Homo sapiens: one gene and its partner. The protein of the gene in region 2 interacts with the protein of the main gene of each other region in a pairwise test. Each region holds a gene or a part of one and is shown on either strand. Other genes may lie near its edges.

Region 1 (7,239 bases), on a different chromosome or scaffold from region 2:
CCACAATCACTACATTCATAAGGTTTTTCCCCAGTGTGGATTCTCTGATGCTGAATAAGGTGTGAGCTCTGGCTGAAGGCCTTCCCACACTCATTACATTCATAGGGCTTTTCCCCAGTGTGGATTCTCTGATGTTGAATAAGGTCTGAAGTTCGATTAAAGCTCTTGCTACATTCATCACACTTATGGGGTCTGTCTCCCACGGGGAGTCTCTGATGTGAGATAAGGTTGGAATTCACAGTGAAGCTGTTCCCAAAATCATTATATTTCTCGCTTCTCTCTCCCCTGGGGGTTAGCTTCTCCTCAACTGTCACTTGACCAAAATCTGGCATTTTCCTGTTCAGTCTTTCTCCAGGGGAGTTCCCCAGCGGCCTTTTCAGACTGACTTCTCGTTCATAGGCTTCTTTAAACTTGAGACCCTGAGAAATATCCTTTTGAAATCTTCCCAGTAGGACCCCATGTGATCTTGTGTCTTCAGAAATTTCTTGATCATTTTCAGTCCTGGTCTCACGATCTGACACAATAAAAAATGCAAATGTCACTTGTTCCTTAGGGAAGAAAGAGTGAAAATCACAGGACAGGATCATTGTAACGAATACTTACAGTGCCAAAAGCACATGCCTACAAAGAGGCCTGCCCCACATGTGTGCGGCTAAGGCAAAATGAGACAGCCGGGCTAAGGAGACAGGGAAGGGGCAGGGCAGAGCAAAACCAAGGAGAACAGAGCTGGAAGTGGAAAGAAAGCTGAGTGTGTGTGGAGGGGAGGACGGATCAGGCAGAGAGGCAGGGAACCAACTTTAGAAGAGGAAGGTCATATTGCTTAATGAAGTGACAAAGCCTTTAGAGAGGTCAGGGCAGTGGATATAACTGGGGACACAGTGACTGCAAGAAGGGAGAGCAAGTACAGGACAGTTGGTGAGAAAAGGGGGGAAGGGTGAGGAGAGACAGCAGCAGCGCGGGAACAAGCAAGGGGGAGGATGCTAGTGGCTGCCATGGCCCCATAAGAAGAGCAATCATGGCTGTCGTCACGCCACAAATGCCAAGCCCATGGAAACGGCAAGACAACTGAGTCCGCCTCTGGGCCCTATGCATAAAAGGCTATGCTCGCACGTAAGGCTATGCAAAGAATCTCAGTGTCTGACGTCTCTGTTTTCACTCCTTTTGAGTTTCTAAAGCCAACTCTGGGCACAGAGGATAAATGTAAAGGGTCCAGAGAGTTTGCGTTTTTAGCTTAATTGATATTTTAAAAAGTAAAGACAGGGTAATGTGTGTTAGGGACGGGAACGGCTGTTTCTCCTTCACCTGAAGAGGTACCTCTTAGGACCTCTCTGCTCTCAGTTCCTTTGAAACCCAGGCCCCTTGGCTCTTCCTCTCATTCTAGCAGAGAGATGGTGGCAGGATTCAGAAATGGGAATTCTGCTCATGGGGAGAGACATGGGACAAGGAGGTTTATCTGCTCACCCTGAGAGTCCCAGAGCTCAATTCCAGACCCCAGATCTGCCGGGGACAGAAGGGAAATGTACAGGAAGGTCTCAAATGAGAGTTAGGAAGACGTCCTGGCTCTGCTCAGGAAAATGCCCACTAAGAGTGGGGTGAGAGACAAGGAATTCTACATCCTAAAAGTTGAGAAACTAATTTATTAATCTTTCTTTTTTTGTTTTTGTTTTTGAGACAAGGTCTCACTCTATCGCCCAGGATGGAGTGCAGTGGCGTGTTCTTGGCTAACTGCAACCTCCACCTCCCAGGTTCAAGCAATTCTCCTGCCTCAGCCTCCCAAGTAGCTGGGATTACAGGCACATGCCACCACCCCCAGCTAATTTTTTTTGTATTTTTAGTAGAGATGGCGTTTCAACATGTTGGCCAGGCTGGTCTCAAACTCCTGACCTCAGTATCTGCCCGCCTCAGTCTCCCAAAGTGCTGGGATTACAGGCATGAGCCACCGCGCCTGGCCTAATTTCTTAACCTTTCTAAGTTTCTACAGAGCAGCAGGGGCACTAGGTCCTGAACAAAGCAACAGGTCCCTAGAAGTTAGAGAAGGGGAGCAGAGAAGCAGAGAAGGAGAGGACAGAGACGTGGGCAAAGAGCAGCACCTCATGTGTTCAGGGATAATCCTTCGGAAAAGTCTCTGGATTATATATTAAGTCCTGAGAATAACACGGAAAAAGTATCAGATTTGGCCAGGCGCGGTGGCTCATGCCTGTAATCTCAGCACTTTGGGAGGCCGAGGCAGGTGGATCACCTGAGGTCAGGAGTTCGAGACCAGCCTGACCAACATGGAAAAACTCCGTCTCTACTAAAAATACAAAATTAGCTGGGTGTGGTGACGCATGCCTATCATCACAGCTACTCAGGAGGCTGTGGCAGGAGAATTGCTTGAACGCAGGACGCAGAGGTTGCGGTGAGCCGAGACCACGCTATTGCACTCCAGCCTGGCAACAAGAGTGAAACTCCATCTCAAAAAAAAAAGGTACCAGATTTGGAGTTAAAGACTGGGCCCCAAGTTTTGCCACTCATCAGCCCAACTGATGACCATGCATGCACAAGACATTGAGACCGCTACTCTCACCTCCACTTTATTTACTTATTTATTTTTTGAGACAGGGTCTGTGTCACCCAGGCTGGACTGCAGTAATGCCATCTCGGCTCACTGCAACCTCGGCTTCCCAGGCTCAAGTGATCCTCCAACCTCAGCCTCCCAAGTAGCTGGGACTACAGGCATGTGCCACCATGCCTGGCTAATTTTTTGGATATTTGGTAGAGACAGGGTCTCGCCATGTTGCCCAAGCTGGTCTTGAACTCTTGACCTCAAGTGATCCTCCTGCCTCAGCTTCTCAGAGTGTTGGGATTACAGGTGTGAGCCACCTCGCCTGGACTACTTTCACTTTCCTTACCTGTAAAATGAGGAATAATACTAGCTGCCTCAATTAATGTGTTACTGTGAAGATTAAATGAAAGAATATATATGAGAACTCTTTATAAGTTGCAGACTGCTGTATAAATGAGTTAAGATTATTGTTCTTACAGTTTCCTAAGACTAAGTCAATCCTTACCTAGGCCAGGTGCAGTGGCTCATGCCTATAATCCCAGCACTTTGGGAGGCCAAGACGGGTGGATCACTTGAGGTCAGGAGTTTGAGACCAGCCTGGCCAACATGGTGAAACCCCGTCTCTACTAAAACAAAAAAAAACAAAACAAATACAAAAATTAGCCTGGTGTGGTGGTGCGTGCCTGTAGTCCCAGCTACTTGGGAGGCAGAGGTGAGAACCTGGGAACACTTGAATCTGGGAGATGGATGTTGCACTGAGCAAAGATTGTGCCATTGCACCTCAAAAAAAAAATCTGCTGAAACAGCTCTTTTCAGTGACTAGATTGTTACTAGCAAACGAAGAAGCAAAGAAACACCAGCGAGTTTTGTTGACAAGGCATAACTCCTTACCCAGTGAGAACACATTCCCGTAATTCTCCAGCATCACATCTCTATAGAGGTCCCTCTGAGCAGGTTCCAAACGCTTCCACTCCTTCCGGATGAAGTACACAGCTACATCCTCAAAGGTTACCAGCTCCTGAAACAACACGTGCTGGCATGCAATTTCAGGGTGAGGAATGTGAATGGCGGCACCAAAAAAATCACTGAGGATGGGGTGAAAAATGCACATTTGGGAAGGGAGGAAGGGAGGACAGGGTGGAGGAAGAGAGACAGGAGTCCAAGATAGAAGGTGAGGGTCCATGATTCAGCAGGACAGAACCATGGGCCTGATGGAGGAGATCAGGGTTTAAAGCTCTGAATGGGATGTCATTGCACAGAAAATGGAAAGGAAAAGGATAAACGGAACCACAGCTCACCTGGGACTTGGCCTTTAGGAGCGCAGCCGCCAACATCTCATCCCCCAGGCTGTCCTTGTCGGAAAAGGCAGGAACTTTTGAAGGAAGAGCTGAAGGGCAATAAAAGGGCCCAGGAATGAGTCCATCTGCTCTGTGACCTCCCAACCTGCTGACTTCCCAACCCACAGAAAGCTCCCGGGGTCCTGGGACAACACAGGACCCTCTCTCTCACATTTCTAAGTTTGCTTCCTCTGCAGCTAGCTACAGTGTGTCCAACAAAGGCAAACTCAGAGCGAGTCCATCCTGCCTGAGCAGATGGCCACAGGCCTGGTCATTCTTAGTCTCCAGTCTGTCCCAGGTCCCCTCTTCTCTCCAGTCACTCTTCTCTCAATGAAACCGCCCAGTCCTATCTTAGTGATTACTGCATTCTTGTCCATTCACCCAAGCTTGGCCAGAAACATATGATCCCGCTCTTGCATGAAGTTCTATTTTTTTTTTTTTTGAGGTGGGTTTTGCTATGTTGCCCAGGCTGGTCTCAAACTCCTGGGCTCAAGTGATCCTCCTGCCTCAGCCTCCCAAATAGCTGGGATTACAGTCGTGTGCCACTGCACCCAGCATGAAGTTCTTAGACCAGAGAAAAACCAGCAGCTTCACCCCAGCCCTGACTGGAAACACAATGCCCACAGCTCCTTTCTCTCCACCCCAGATCAAATCTGTACACTAAAAATGTTCCCTGTTTCTGTGTTGAATCTCTTACCTTTTTCTGCAATTCTTTTTTTTTTTTCTTTTTGAGGTGGCGTCTCACTCTGTCACCCAGGCTGGAGTGCAGTGGCGTGATCTCGGCTCACTGCAACCTCCACCTCCCGGGTTCAAGCAATTCTCCTGCCTCAGCCTCTGGAGGAGCTGGGACTACAGGTGCGTGCCACCATGCCCGGCTAATTTTTTGTATTTTTAGTAGAGATGCGGTTTCACTGTGTTGGCCAAGATGGTCTCAATTTCCTGACCTTGTGATCTGCCCGCCTCAGCCTCCCTAAGTGCTGGGATTACAGAAGTGAGCCACCGCGCTCGGCCGCAAAGTATACTTTAGTGGCTTCCTATTCACTCTGTCTTTTTGTCTATGACCCATAAAATGATTCCGAAGCGCCTCCTCTAAAAGCATGCTCCTAAAAAGCACAAACTATGCCTATGAAGTCGGCTGCATAGAATGCCCGAGAAATGGAATGATTGACACGGTTTCATTAATCTCGCGTGAGGTACTCACAACCCCTCAAAACTGCCTCAGTGGCCAGGCGCGGTGGGTCATGCCTGTAATTTCAACACTTTGGGAGGCCAAGGTGGGCACTGAGGTCAGGAGTTTAAGACCAGCCTGACCAACATGGCAAAACCCCGTCTCTACAAAAATTAGCCGGGCATGGTGACGGGCGCCTGCAGTCCCAGCTACATGGGAGGCTGAGGCAGGAGAATCACTTGAACCCAGGAGGCGGAGGTTGCAGTGAGCCGAGATTGTGCCACTGCACTCTAGCCTGAGCAACAGAGCAAGACTCCATCTCAAAAAAAACAAAACAAAACAAAACAATCTGCCTCAATTATCAAACCTATCAAGCTGTCATTGATTACTGTTCGGTCAGCTTCCCCACTAGGCTGTGAGTTACTGAATGGCGAAGAGTGTGTCTTATTCACATCTGGATTCTAGTAGTTAGCCTAGTACCTGGTAAGTGAGCGATTTCAATGGATGATTGCAGAATGACTGAGTAAAAGAATGAATGAGTCCTTATTCCTCACCACTGTCAAGCAGGGCCTGAGGTTCCTGAGATACGAGATCAGCCTGAGTTTCCATGGAAGGGCAAGGTGCTCTCTGGTCTCCTGGGTGCAGACTCAGCGGGAAGCGGGTTTTAAAAGAGAATGAGGAAGCACTGCAGAAGCAAAAGTTCAAGGTTCAAAGATAATTCAAAAAAACCTCCTGAATACAGAAAGATGGGAGCTAGTATTTCAGTGAGTACCCAGGAACAGTGAGAAGAAATGTGGCAACTGGGACTAGTCTTTTATTTTCTTTTATTTTTTAATTTTTTTTTTCCTTTTTGTGGAGAACAGGGTCTCGCTATATTGCCCAGGCAGGTCTGGAACTCCTGGGCTCAAGCTATCCTCCCACCTGTTGCCTCCCTGAGAGCTGGGATTACAGGCGTGAGCCACCGCGCCCGGTATTTTTAAATTTTCTTTATTTTTTTTAAGACGGAATTTCACTCTTGTCACCCAGGCTGGAGTGCAATGGCGCAATCTCATCTCACTGCCACCTCTGCCTCCCGGGTTCAAGCGATTCTCCTGCCTTAGCCTCCCAAGTAGCTGGGATTACAGGCACGCACCACCATGCCTGGCTAATTTTTGTATTTTTAGTAGAGGTGGGATTTCACCATGTCAGCCAGGCTGGTCTCAAACTCCTGATCTCAGGTGATCCGCCCACCCCAGCCTCCCCAAGTGCTAGGATTACAGGTGTGAGCCACCATGCCCAGCCTCAGACTAGTCTTTTAGATCCTGGTAAATATACTCCCTGAAATGAGACTATCACAAGGACCACAAAAAGGGCCCAAGTTCCTCAACAATATCCCGCCTTTGGCTGCCCCCATCACTTTGAGTAATATTTATAACAAAATGCAGGAGCGGGTATATACATTCACTGGCATAAAAAGACTACTCCCAGGCTGGGCACGGTGGCTCATGCCTGTAATCCCAGCACTTTGGGAGGCTGAGGCAGGCAAATCACGAGGTCAGGAGTTCGAGACCAGCCTGGCCAGGATGATGAAACCCCATCTCTACTAAAAATACAAAAAATTAGCTGGGCATGGTGGTGTGTGCCTGTAATCCCAGCTACTCAGGAAGCTGAAGCAGGAGAATCACTTGATCCCAGGAGGTGGAGGTTGCAGTGAGCCGAGATCACGCCACTGCACTCCAGTCTGGGCAATAGACAGAGACTCTGCCTCAAAAAAAAAAAAAAAGAAAAAGAAAAGAAAAAATACAAAAATTAGCTGGGCATGGTGTTACATGCGCCTGTAATCCCAGCTACTTGGGAGGCTGAGGCAGGAGAATCGCTTGAACCCGGGAGGCAGAGGTGGCAGTGACCCAAGATCGCACCATTGTACTCCAGCCTGGGCAACAGTGAGACTCTGTCTCAAACAAAACAAAACAAAACAAAACAAACCAACCAACCCTGGATTTGATCTACCTCTCATTATCTCTTTACTCATTTGCTCACATAGCAAATGTTTGCTGAGGGCTAACTCTATTGCCACTCACAACTGCAAGGAGTAAAAAAATCGGGAATGCAAAAAGTATGTGCTTCATAATTACAGACTGTTACACTCACATAAGGCATCAAAGGAAGAGGAATGGATAAGAGAATGTTTGAGAGAATAAAAGAAAAAA
Region 2 (8,091 bases):
TTTGAAAGACTATTTCTTCTCTCATCTCAGAATCCTACATTGCTAGAGTCTGACATTTTTATGTCTGACACCCAGATTCTGTACTGCATTATAACTGTGTTATTTCTCCTACTGAACTGCAGGTTGCTTGAAAATGGGGAAGTATCTTATTTAATTTGTATCCCTATTCTTCCAGTCTTCAAAGTAGAAGATACTTAAGAAAGGTTTGTTGTATAATTATTTCTGCTTTTCTGGAGTTTCTGAGGGCTTCAGCAAAATATACTTCAAGTCTAACTGCTGTGTGGGACTGTCTTTCAGATATTATTTGCACTATACTCAATACATTTTGGATCACTCAAATTACTGATTTTGGTGGAAATATCCTTCTAAAGTAAAAATAAAATATAATTCCCCTTCATAAAACCTTCTGAAGGTTCCCTGTAACCTACTGGTCAATGTTCACAGCACTGTTCTACAGCCTTATTAATATGGCAACCCCACCCTGGTCCAACTCTACCAAGCCACCTGTAACTCAACTGTACACTGCTGCAGAATGCACCAGCTGCTTGATGAACTCCACTGCCTCTACCAGACACAGCTGAAATTCTCCTTCTTTTTGAAAGCCTTCCTATATTTGTTTTTTGTGAGGTTTTTTTGCTTCCTGCCTCACTATGCTGATAATTTCTAAAATACAAATTCCTCAAGGCAACACTCATCTTTTTATCCTCAGGTCAGGCAAGTAGCAGCTTACTAAGCGTTTAATGAATGTTTATTGAAAGAATTACTAAAGAATAATTCAGTAAATCTGCTGGTACTACATAAAACATTGGCCCACAATCAAAAGGCACAATTCTAGGATGTTTTTCATTACTACTAATGAATGGTGCATTTCTCTATTCTATCTCATCCCATAAACTCGTGAATTCAAGATAACTTGTACCTTCACTACTAGCTAACCATATCACCATTACCAAAGCCACAAAACAAACCCACATCGTATCAAAACCTCTTTGCGTCATGAGCAAATGGTGAAACCAGTAAGGCATATTCACAGCTATTGTAAAAGATATGGAAAAAATAACTTAAAAATCTTTGAAATCGATCCAATTTAAGCATGTTAAATGAATTAAAATCACACAATTTGGGGGCGGTGTCTTTTCATGCACCTAATTTCTCTAGGGGTATACTACATAAAAGGCACTCAAACGCCTACTTTATAAAACCGGTGTCACGGCCTGCTTTGGCCAAAAAGCAGACTGTCAAGTACTAGGAGATCCCAAGTATACAATTGGACACTGTGCTGGACTTGAGGTCTTTAGCAAACAATTTCAGCGTAACATTTTAGTTTTCTCATATATCTGCCTCATTATGTTTAGAACATAATGTGCTTTAACAAGTCTTGTCACAAGGCACAATGTGTTATGAGATCTCCACATTTCATCCTAGAATAACTAAGTCTTCACAGTTATCTTCAAGCTGCCTCACCCATGTTACGTAATCCATGAGCTTTTTATCTTCCCTGTACAGTTGGGGAAAGAGAAGGGAAGGAAGAGTACAAAATGACTTGGCCTAAGAGGTTCAGCCAGTCACTAAAAGAGCCTTCGTTTTAATTATCAGTTCCTAACCCTCTTCTCAAAGAACCGTTTTGTTTGAGAAACCTTCATTAACAGCAGGCAGAACAGAGTGTTAAATTAGCTATTAGCTTTCCTTACTTGTTTAGTGTGAATGAATAACCTAAGCTTCCTAAGCCTGTAGGTTGATAGTTTTAGGATAAGAGATCTGATGGATCAAGTTTTGCCGACTGGATCCAAATTCATAAATCTACCTCTAACTTCTAAATTTCAAAATAGCTTGACGTGAACTTTAAAGGCATTTCTTTCCTCTCCAAATTTCTAATTCTTTACAAATTTTATTCACTCTCCTAAATGAGTCAACTCATACCAACCTTTCTAGTTCAGGATCAAACTGTAGGATCACCAGAATTTTCTTCTACCCCACAGTAAGCCAAACCCCCATGAACCATGAAAAGGTCCATGACATCCATCACCCACAGCTAACTCTACACCTTGACTCTAATCTGAATTGTTAGAAAGCCCAGGAAGTTCAAGAAGCCTCCACCCTTACACTTCTAAATCACCTTCTTTTCTAATCCTCAACCTATTACAGCGTCCAGAAAAGAGAAATCTCAATTCTCTCAGATTCAAGAACTTTATCAGCGTTGCTAGTAATCGCAGTTTGGCATTTACAACTATGGGTCCTGAAACTGGGTAATAATCTAAAAATTCCTACATTATACGTGCAGACAGCAAATTAGTATATTCTATGTCCTGGGCCCAAGCGATATGCCTAACTGGGCAATCAGCATAGGCTCAAAAAATGTGCAGGGAGCTCACAATTCAGTTTACTGTCGTTGACTATAAAATTCTAAACCAAAGTATTTTCATGATAAAATTATAAACCAAAGTATTTTCACACATGCCTGCCTCTTGGATGATGTAAATTCTTCCCCTAGACTTTTTACTAGACCACTATCGGGGTTCTCTTCCACTGCAGCGGCCACCCAATAACTCGTTTTAAAGACTGCCTCTTGCGGCTGCACTAGCAAATCGCCAAACCCCGCATGCCCCACGGCCGCTGCTGAGACTCTGCAGCCCCAAATCGGCCATCCCCTCCTCCCCCACGTCCCCGCGCTGCTCGTCCCCCAACGCCGGGCGCCAACCTTGCTCCATCCCAGAGAGGGTTTGGGGCTCCCCGGGTCAGAGCGCTCCGCAGGCGCAGCTCCGCGAACGCCAGCGAGAGCGGTCCCGGGGCCAGCACCTACCTCCCACCTCCTCCTCCAGGAGCGGCCCGGGTCGACGCTCGCCCGCACCCTGCAACGGCCCCAACAGCCGCGCGGAGCCTCCCGCCGAACAACGGGGCGCTGAGCCAGGTGCCGGCTCTCACCTCCGCGCGCGCCCGCCCCTTGCCGGCGCCCACCCCCGCCCGCCCCTCCCTGGCGGGGCGCGTCACAATCCCCGACGCGAGGCGCTGCTGCTCACCGTCACGGCCCCCGGGAGCGGCGGGGAGTCACCGCTCGGCGTCCTAGCCCGGCTCCCGCAGCCCGAGGGCCAGCAGCGCCTCGCAGCGCCTCCCGCCCGCGGCCCCTCCTCCGCTGCGGGCTCCCGCCTTCCCCGCCCCTTGCAGCCGCCTCCCGGCCTCCGCAGGTTTCCGAGGTTCCCACCCCGCCCCCGCGCGCCGGCGCCGCAGGCCCCGCCGCCTCCCATTGGCTCCGCCAGTTGCTAGGCGATGAACAACCGTGGCCTGCATTGGTCGGGTGGGGGCCTCGGTAGTCTCCTCCTTACCTCCAAAAAAACCCGGAGAAAAAGAAGACCTTATCCCTGCGGTCCGCGCGCGCTGCGGGCGCAGCTGCGGCTGCGGCACCTGTTACGCCCAGTGATTCACCCGGCCGTTTTCTGCTCCCCGCCCCCTTCTGACGCCTGCAGCGTCCGGGGCCGGGGCTCTGTGGGGGCCGGGACTCTGCAGGGACCGGGGTCGTGGCTACTTTAGAGCACGTTTTCCGAGCCCCACTGAACCCCAACACCCAGCCTAGCAGCAAAAGTGAAGCTTCCAGGAGAGCCACGTGCGTTTGCCAAAGTGGAGAAATAAACTGCGGGCACCTAGAATTAGGTCAGGTCCAAGGAACGGGAGGTTCAAGCGTCGGGAGTCGTGGATGCAAACAATCCAGCCGGGAGAAAGTTATATGTAAAATTAGGGCGAAGAAATGGATCTGGGCAGAAGACCGCGGGCAAAGGAAAGACTAAGAAATAGCATTCGTGAACTCAGTTTATGCAAAAATGTCTTACACCCACTCGACAAAGTATGTGCGATGAAAATGTATGCCTGCTGCACCCGTGGCCAGGGTCAGGCTGTCTCCTCCCTGGTTTCATGGCAGCCTAAAATTCACTGGGGAAGAAAAGAAAAGAGGCCAGAGAAAGGAGATCAGATGGAGAAATCACAGGCATATAGGTTACACAAAGATGTTCTTTGATTTTTGTTTTGTTTAGTTTTGGTGAAGCCAAGGGATTTATTCAAAAGGCGAAAAACAGGTTTGGTGTTTTAAGGAGACTCCTGAGAGCACTTTGAAACCAAAACAGTATGAGTGAAGATGCTAACACTGAAAAACAAGAGCGGGAGGAATGTCCACCTCCCAGTTTGCATGCACGTATCCCCAATCCTGGATGAAAGATCAGGGCCAGAAGAAGCACGCCACGGTGACAACTTCAGGGCCCAACGAAATCCTCCTCTTTTCCTTTGGCCAAGCAATCAGAGGCCCGTCTAGCTGCTGTTGAGCCCAGGTGGCGTTACCATTAACAGTTACATTTTTAAAAGGTTTGAACCAAGCTTAGTTGAGCTCTGGGAAGTTTAGCTCTGACCTCAGCAACCCCGGGAAAGGAATAAGATCTGCCTGAATAAACCAGCGGTCTCAATCTTTTGGTCTCAAGACCGCTTTCCACTTGTAAAATTATTGAGAGCCCCAAGAACTTTTCTTTATGTTGGTTACAGCTATTAATATTAAAACAGAAATTTAAAAATTGCTATTTTTTAAAATAATAATGAATAAAAATAAAAATGTCAAATAGCGCATTTTAATTAAAAATAACTATTTTCAAAAAATTAGTTAAAAGAATGGTGTTACTTTAAAATTTTGCCCATATCTTTAATGTCTTGCTTAATAGAAGGCATTTGGATTTTCATATCTGTTTGTGCATTCGATCTGTTGTGCTATTTCAGGTAGCGTCTGGAAAACTCTACTGTGCACTCATAATGAGAGGGAAAAAGGCAAATAATATCTTAGTATTATAACAAAAATAGTTTTGACTTTGCAGACTCCCTGGAAGGGTCTTGGAAACTTGCCGCCCCAAGGTTCAGCAGATCTTTGAAAACCACTGGTCTAAACCTCTTTGTACTCTGTCCCTCTTTGTTAACCAATAACTGGTTAAGGGGCTAAAAATATGACCTAATTCTGCTCAGTCCATAATGGGGAGTGGGGGATGAGGAGCTTCAGGGGAAGGATTTTATCCTGACAGACTAAGGACAAGTTTTTTCCTTCTTGCCTTGGACATCCTCCAGTAAGCCAGACATGTTTGGAGCTGTGGCAGCATATTCTGCAACCACGAGAGAAAAGCAAGAAAAATACATGCGTACCTCGTTTTATACTTCAATTTATTGCACTTTACAGGCACTGTATTTTTTTTTAATAAAGGTTTGTTGCTCAACCCTGCATTGAGCAAGTCTAGTGGCACCATTTTTTCTAAGAGCATGTGTTCACTTGGTGTCTCTGTCACATTTCGGTAATTTTTGAAATATTTCAGACTTTTCCATTAAATATGTTACGGTGATCTGTGATGTCACTATTGTATTATTTTGGGGGTGCCGCAAACTGCACCCTTATAAGACAGCCAATTCAATGTATATGTTGACTGCTCCACTGACTGGCTGATCATCTCTCTCCCTCTCCTTGGGCCTCCCTACTCCCTAAGACACAGCAATATTAAAATTAGGCCAATAAATAACCCTACAATGGCCTCTAAGTGTTCAAATGAAGGGAAGAGTCACATATCTCTCACTTTAAATCAAACGCTAGAAATGATTAAGCTTAGTGAGGAAGGCATCTTGAAAGCTGAGATAGGCAGAAAGCTAGACCTATTGTTCCAGTTAGCCAAGTTATAAATGCACAGAAAAAGTTCTTGAAGGAAATTAAAAGTCCTCCTCCCTTGAACACAGGCATGAAAAGAAAGTGAAACTGCCTTATTGCTGATAAGTAGAAAGTTTGAGTGGTCTGGATAAGAGATCAAACCAGCCACAGCATTCCTTTAAGCAAAAGCCTATCCAGAGCAAGGCCCTAATTCTTCATTTCTATGAAGGCTGAGAGAAATGAGGAAGCTTCATTTAAAAAGTTTGAGGCTAGCAGAGTTTGGTTCATGAGGTTTAAGGAAAGAAGCCATCTCCGTCACATGAAAGTGCCAAGTGAAGCAGCAAGTGCCGCTGTAGAAGCTGCAGCAATTTATCTAGAAGATCTGATTGATGAAGGTGGCTACACTAAACAGATTTTCAGTGTAGACCAAAAGAAAGCCTTCTATTAGAAGAATATGCCACATAGAACTTTTCTAGCTAAAGAGGAGAAGTCCCTGCCTGGCTTCAAAGGACAGGCTGACTCTTGTTAGGGGCTAATGCAACTGCTGACTTTTTATTTTTATTTTTTATTTTTTGACACAGGGTCTCAATGTGTTGCTCAGGCTGAAGTGCAGTGGTGCGATCACGGCTCACTGCAGCCTCAAGTGATCCTCAAGCAATCCTCCCACCTTAGCCTCCCAAGTAGCTGGGGCTACAGGCACACACCACCATGCCCAGCTAATTTTTGTATTTTTTGTAGAGACAGGGTTTTACCATGTTGCCCAGGCTGGTCTCAAACTCCTGAGCTCAAATGCTCCACCTCCCTCAGCCTCCCAAAGTGCTGTAAGCCACTATGCCCGGCTCCAGCTACTGACTTTAAGTTGGAGGTAATGCTCATTTGCCATTCCAAAGATCCTAGGGCCCTTAAGAAATATCTAAATTGACTTTGCCTGTGTTCTATCAATGGAACAACAAGGCCTGGCTGACAGCACATCTGTTCACAGCATGGTTAGTGAATATTTTAAGTCCACTGTTGAGACCTATGACTCAGAAAAAAAGATTACTTTCAAAATCTCACTGCTCATTAATAATGCACCTGGTTACCCAAGAGCTTTGCCTGCTAACACAAGATCTATTCTGCAGCCCATGGATAAAGGAGTAATTTTGGCTTTTAAGTCTTATTTGAGAAATACATTTCATAAGGCTGTATCTTCCATAGATAGTGATTCCTCTGATGGAACTGGGCAAAGTAAATTGAAAACCTGGAAAGGATTCACCATTCTAGATGCCATTGAGAACATTCATGGGCACGGAAGGAGGTCAAAATATATCAACATTAAGAGGAGTTTGGAAGAAGTTGATTAAAACCCTCATATATGACTTTGAGGCGTTCAAGACTTCAGTGGAAGAAGTAACTGGAGATGTGGTAGACATAGCAATAAAACTAGAACTAGAAGTGGAGCCTGAAGATGTGACTGAATTGCTTCAATCTCAGGATAAAACTGGAACAGATGAAGAGCTACTTCTTATGGATGAACAAAGAAAGTGGTATCTTGAGGGGGAATCTACTCCTGGTGAAGATGCTGTGAACGTTGTTCAAATGACAACAAAGGATTTAGAATATTCCATAAACTTAAACTGATAAGCAGCAGGGTTTCAGAAGATTAACTCCAATTTTGAAAGAAGCTCTACTGTGGGTAAAATGCTGTCAGACAACGTTGCATGATACAAAAATATTTTGTGAAAGGAAGAGTCACTCGATGTGGCAAACTTCATTGCATTATTTTAAGAAGTTGCCACAGCCACCCCAACCCTCCGCAGCTACCATCCTGATCAGTCAGCAGCCATCAACATCAAGGCAAGACCCTCCACTAGCAAAAAGATTATAACTTGCTGAAGGCTTCAAGATTTTTTTAGATTGTTAGCATTTTTTAGCAATGAAGTATTTTTCAATTAAAATATGTACCTTGTTTTTAAAGACATAATGCTATTGCATACTAATAGACAATAGTATAGTATAAAATAACTTTTATATGGACCGGGAAGCCAAAATACTATGTGACATCCTTTATTGTGATATTTGCTTCATTGCTGTGGTCTGGAACCGAACCTGCACTACCTCTAAGGTGTGCCTGTACAGAAAAGGCAACCCCAAGCCCAGATGTTACTGAGTGGCTACATTAGCCTACCTTGGCTCTGTATATCTCTACACTGCATATCATGTGAGACAGTAAATGGCCTATTGCTTAAGCCATTGTAGGCTTAAGCCTAAGAACATTTTTAGCCCAGGGCTAAAAGAAATTGGGCTTGATAGAACTTTACTATGGTAAGTGTATTAGGCCATTCTTGCATTGCTGTAAAGACTGGGTAGTTTATGAAGAAAAGCGGTTGAATTGACTCCCGGTTCTGCAGGCTGTGCAGGAAGCATGACACTGGCATCTGCTTCTAGGGAGGCCTCAG

What was found.
Region 1: the proteins of SSX2IP (region 2) and ZNF3 interact in binary tests that used the Homo sapiens proteins (3 or more experiments, as listed by UniProt).

Annotation. Positions count from the first base shown.
Region 1 is NC_000007.14:100,071,699-100,078,937, forward strand, and holds part of ZNF3 (zinc finger protein 3), read right to left. Parts: intron 5,736-7,239; 5' UTR 5,660-5,735; coding exon 5,605-5,659; exon of another isoform or gene 5,531-5,604; intron 5,525-5,530; exon of another isoform or gene 4,580-5,524; intron 3,933-4,579; coding exon 3,844-3,932; exon of another isoform or gene 3,729-3,843; coding exon of another isoform or gene 3,564-3,728; coding exon 3,437-3,563; intron 515-3,436; coding exon 1-514. UniProt on the Homo sapiens protein: Involved in cell differentiation and/or proliferation.
Region 2 is NC_000001.11:84,687,354-84,695,444, forward strand, and holds the start of SSX2IP (afadin- and alpha-actinin-binding protein), read right to left. Parts: upstream 3,109-8,091; 5' UTR 3,018-3,108; exon of another isoform or gene 2,699-3,017; intron 1-2,698. UniProt on the Homo sapiens protein: Belongs to an adhesion system, which plays a role in the organization of homotypic, interneuronal and heterotypic cell-cell adherens junctions (AJs).